Linked DNA regions of Homo sapiens: region 1 is linked to region 2. Evidence: fine-mapped expression QTL. Tissue or cell type: whole blood. Region 2 holds a variant in brackets; the other region holds the start of a gene. All regions are shown on one strand. Distances are between the middles of the regions.

Region 1 (2,681 bases), 47 kb before region 2:
CAAAAAAAACTAGGTAGAATGTGATACATGTGAAAAGAGATCCAGCTCAAGTGCCTTGGGAGCTCAGGGGAGGGTGAGATTAATCTCTTTTTCCCAAGAATCTGGAGGCAGGAAACCAAGTCGGTTTCATCTTTGGAATTGTAAGCTTAGACTTAGAAGTCTCAGAGGGGGACTTGGGGGTCTTATCCACCCTCACCCCTGGCAGGATTCCCTGTCTAGAATAAACAATAACTTTAAAATGGAAACAAAAAAAGGAGCTCTGAAGGAAAACTGTGAAGGAAGAGGCTCCGTTTGAAATGAATAGAAAATGAATTTAGCTTGGAGGTGCTGAGGTGTTGGTAGAGGCAACTTTCTGGCAAGAGGCGAGTTGAAGGCCAGGAAGTGAATGAGATCAGGGAGAGTGTCTGGAGGGAAGAGGGGCAAAAACAAACTGGGGAAGCACCCACGTTTTAGGAAGTGGGTGGTGAAAGAGGAGTCAGAGAAGGCCAGAGGGAGAGGTGAGCAAAGATCCAGCAGAACACCTTGTTACAAAGTTTCGAGGAGGGTGGGAGGGGTGGAAGCCAGGACGGGTAGCAGAAGGAAGAAAACTTCCAGCAATAGGGATTGAGGTTCCACACGAAGTTACCAATGACATTTCAAGGAATGAAGGCTTTTCCTGAGGCTCCACAAATAAGGTGAATTCCCTGTGTCTCGCATCTTTGGAGCTTCCCCGAGGCCAGGGGGAGCAGGGTTGTGCCCTCTGACCTCTAAATATCTGGGGTTCAGTTCTATAATTAGCAGCACCGGATAGGACGCGAGCCAAACCTCTCTTAACCCTAGCCAGTCCCTCCAGGAACTGAAAAGATGAAGAATTCATTTAGGAGATTTCACACTCGGCTGTTTGGCCTAGCCCAGTGAAGTCCCTTTTCATCACGCAACCCTAATGACTCTTAGGGCTGTCACTGCCGTCTGGTGTTGCCAGGGATCTGACTAAACCGTCTTGCAAAAGTTTGCAGCATTCACCCGAGGCGGACTACAACTCCCAGAATTCCGGGCGCTCCCCGGTGCTGATTGGCGGAGCCCGTGACTCCAGGGGGCGGAGTTTCCCCCGCCTCCCCGGGGAAACAGACCTCTGATTGGCTGGACCGCCGGGCTTTTGTGTCCCCGCCCTCCCCCGGGGACCGCAGCGGGCTGAACTGCTGGTGTCAGAGCCCGGCGAGCGCTGGCAGTTCCGCGGCGGGGATGCTGAGGAGCGCTGGGTCCGGGAGCAGCCCTGGCCCCTGCGGACTTCCGAGGCCGTGAAAACCCCTGCGCTGCGGCCCTTCCCAGGCCCCCGAGGCCGTTCGCCGTTCCCGAAGCCCGACTGGGGGAAGAGTCCAGCACCAAAGCGGCCGTTCTCGGATTCCGGAGCGTTCTGGAGCCCCGAGAGACGCCCCGGGGTTCTAGAAGCTCCCCGGCGGCGCCCAGTCCCGGCTTCATTCGGGCGTCCCTCCGAAACCCACTCGGGTGCACGGGTCGTCGGCGAGCCGCGACCGGGTCCTGGCGCGCACCATGATCGTGGCGGACTCCGAGTGCCGCGCAGAGCTCAAGGACTACCTGCGGTTCGCCCCGGGCGGCGTCGGCGACTCGGGCCCCGGAGAGGTAAGCGGCGGCCGCGCGACGCCCCTCTTCCCTGGAACCCCGAACCGCGTCTGAGCCTCAGGCTGTCCGGAGCTGAGTCGGTGTGTCCTGGGCTCGGGGAGGGAAAGCCGAGCGCGTAACCCGGGACCCGGGTTGCATCAACTGGCAGCCGCGGCCCTCGGCACCCCTCCCCCACTCTGTCTCCCCTCTCCCTCCTTCTCCCCCTCCCTCTCCCCCTCCTCCCTCCCTCTCCCCCTCTCCCTCACCGCCCCACCCCAGGGCCGCGGATCCTTCCTCGGCTCCCTCGGACTCCTGGCCAATGAGGGAGAAGCCTTCTGGAGGCTCTCCGAGCTTTGGGCTCCTGAGCGTCTTCAAGTCCAGGCAAATCCCGGCCGGAGCGGCCAGACCACTCCTCCTCCCCGCCCCCTTCCGCGGAGTCCCTTCCTCTTCGCGGGGGCCGGCGGGCAGAGGACCCTTCCTGGGGTGCCTCCCGGCTCCTGTCCCCCAGCGCGGGGCGTAGGCACCTGGGACTGGCCAGTGAAAGTCGACCTCATCCTATGTCCACCGCACTCCTGCTTTGGAGGGAGAGCGCAGGGGCTCTGGGGGCTTGGCGGGCCGCCCGGTACGCGGCGGCGGCAGCCAAAGCTGGGGGGAGAGGGGACAACCCTGGTCGCGGCTTCCGAAGCCAAGCGCGGGTTAGGCTGCGCCCTGCTAAGTAAGTGGTCTGAAGGCCCAGAAGTTTGTTTTCCAGAAATTCCTCCCCCACCCTCCCTTCGCGCCGCTCCCCTCCACCCCCCCGCATTCGCATCCCGGCATAGCCCGCAGGGGCTTTGCAGGGAGACCGGGAATTAGGCTGGACCTAACCAGACTGACAGTTCGCACTCCCCCACCACTACCAGCAGCAGCGATAATGGACATCTTATCATTTATTATGCACCTACTAGATACCAGGCTCTGAGTTTTTTTCGCCTTTAACCTAAGTCCTCAGGACTAAACCAGCAATACAAGCTACGCTATAGCCCCATTTTACAGGAAGAACATTGAGGCCCACGATGGGCTCAGAAAGAGGCTTTCTTCATTAA
Region 2 (2,681 bases):
TCCTTTACACTGGTAATTCTGTCTCCATTTTTATAATTTTGTCATTTCAAGAATTTTATATAAATAAATCATACAGTGTTTAATCTTTTGAGACTGGCTTTTTTTCACTCATCATGATTCTCTGGAAATTCATCCAGATTGTTCCAAGTATTCATATTTGTTCTCTCTCTTTTTTTTTTTTTTTTTTTTGAGACAGGGTCTGGCTTTGTCACCCAGGCTGGAGTGCAGTAGCGCAATCAGAGCTCACTGGCATCACCGACCTCTCTGCCTCAAGTGATCCTGCCACTTCAGCCTCCCGAGTAGCTGGGACTACAGGTGTGTGCCACCATGCCCAGCTAATTTTTGTAATTTTTTGTACAAGTGGAGTCTCCCTGTGTTGCTCAGGCTGGCCTTGAGCTCCTGGGCTCAAGTGATCCTCCCACCTCAGCCTCCCAAAGTGTTGAGATTACAGGCATGAGCCACAATGCCCGGCCTCGTTTCTTTTTATTTCTGGGTAATACTCCATGCTGAGTGGTATTCTGTGGATGTACCATGGTTTGTTTAACCATCCACCTATTGAAGAACATCTGGATTGTTTCCAGTTTGGGGATACTACCAATAAAACTGCTTTAAACATTCAACTACAGGTTTTTGTCTTAATGTAAGTCTTCATTTCTCTGGGATAAATGCTCAGGATTGCAATTGCCAGGTTGTATGGTAGCTGTGTGATTCTTTTTTTTTTTTTTTTTTTTTTTTTTGAGATGGAGTTTTACTTTTGTCGCCCAGGCTGGAGTGCAATGGCAGGATCTTGGGTCACTGCAACCTCCTTCTCCTGGGTTCAAGCGATTCTTCTGCCTCAGCCTCCTGAGTAGCTGGGATTACAGGCTCCCACCACCACTCCCAGCTAATTTTTGTATTTTTACTAGAGATGGGGTTTCACCATGTTGGCCAGGCTGGTCTCAAACTCCTGACCTCAGGTGATCCACCTCCCTCAGCCTCCCAAAGTGCTGGGATTACAGGCACAAGCCACTGTACCCGCCTATGCGGTTCATTTTTTAAGAAACTGACAGGCTAGCCACGGTGGCTCACGCCTGTAATCCCAGCACTTTGGGAGGCCGAGGCAGGTGGATCACCTGAGGTCAGGAGTTCAAGACCAGCCTGGCCAACATGGTGAAACCCCGTCTCTACTAAAAATACAAACGTTAGCCGGGCATGGTGGTGAACGCCTGTAATCCCAGCTACTCAGGAGGCTGAGGCAGGAGAATCACTTGAACCTGGGAAGCACAGGTTGCGGTGAGCCAAGATTCCGCCACTGCACTCCAGTCTGGGCGATAGAGCGAGACTCTGTCTTAAAAAAGAAAAAGAAAAAGAAACTGACAAAGTTTTCCAGAGTGCAGGGCCCAGGATTTTAATCACACTATTCTACTGCTTATAAATTAACCTATAAAATCTTTTATTTTTAAAAGAATAAAAAGAAATTTTCTTCCTGTTATGGCTGTGATGAACTTTAGTAAGCATACAGTAAACAAAACAAAACAAAACAAAACAAAA[A/C]AAAAAACAGCAATATAAGTTATTTTTTATTTTAAAAACTCTTCACAGGACACTTACACATTGAAATACATACAGCCAAGGGCTGCTGAGCTGTTGGCCTTCCGGAAGCTTAAGCACTTCATCTTTTCTCTGGCATGTGGTCTCTGTGGGTCCTCAGATGCCAGGATCACATGTTCGCTGCTCACTGAGCTCTTAGGAAGCCCCTGTGCTACCCTGTAGGCAGAAATTATCCTTTTTGAATCAGGTAAGTAACAGAAACCTCCTCAGCTTTAAGCTAGAAAGGGAACTCTCTTTCTGAAGGTACAGGAGGTGCAGCTGACCCATGCAAAGGACTGGAGTTAGGAAATGGAGAGTTCTGCAGATCCAATCAGCCAGCCCAGGGGGCCAGTCCCATGGTGCAAGTGTAGTTGCAGGCAAACAAAATAAGATCTTGGGCTCAGGAGTCCAACAACTTGAGTTGAAATCCTGGTTCTACCACTTACAAGCCATGTGACCCTAGGCAAGTTACTTAACCTCTCAGACCCCAGTTTCCTTATCTTAAAATGGGGTAATAAGCCTGGGCAACATAGTGAGACTTTGTGTCTCTCTAAAAAAAAAAAAAAATTTAGCCAGGCATGGTGGCACCCACCTATGGTCCCAGCTACTTGGGAGGCGGAGGTGAGAGGAACACTTGAGCCAGGGAGCTTGAGGCTGCAGTGAACCATGATTGCACCACTGCGCCCCACCAGGGTGACAGAGCAAGACCCTGTCTAAAATAAAATAAAATAAAATAAATAAAATAAAATAGAATGGGGTAATAATTGCATCTACAGTATTAGGTTCATATGGAGATTAATGAGTTGATGCATATAAAAAATGCTTTAAAGGAGTCAGGCAGGCCGGGCGCAGTGGCTCATGCCTGTAATCCCAGCACTTTGGGAGGCCGAGGCGGGCGGATCACCTGAGGTCGGAAGTTCGAGACCAGCCTGACCAACATGGAGAAACCCCGTCTCTACTAAAAATATAAAATTAGCTGGGCATGGTGGTGCATGCCTGTAATCCAAGCTACTCAGGAAGCCGAGAGAGGAGAATCGCTTCAACCCAGGAGGCAGAGGTGGCGGTGAGCCAAGATCGCGCGCCATTGTACTCCAGCCTGGGCAACAAGAGGGAAA

Evidence for each region. PIP is the estimated chance that this variant, and not a neighbour inherited with it, causes the effect.
Region 1: it holds the start of SESN2, and the variant in region 2 is fine-mapped to the expression of SESN2 in whole blood (INTERVAL, PIP above 0.99).

Annotation. Positions count from the first base shown.
Region 1 is chr1:28,258,318-28,260,998 of GRCh38, forward strand. It overlaps SESN2 (sestrin 2), which reads left to right and starts at 1,201. Exons shown (of 10, transcript NM_031459.5): 1 at 1,201-1,620. The coding sequence starts at 1,531. RefSeq lists enhancers at 772-951, 944-1,792 and silencers at 1,062-1,271, 2,052-2,111.
Region 2 is chr1:28,304,829-28,307,509 of GRCh38, forward strand. No RefSeq gene overlaps it. Among named protein-coding and RNA genes, the nearest start is that of MED18, 23 kb to the right of the region's middle. The variant A/C (reference allele first, on the strand shown) is at 1,531.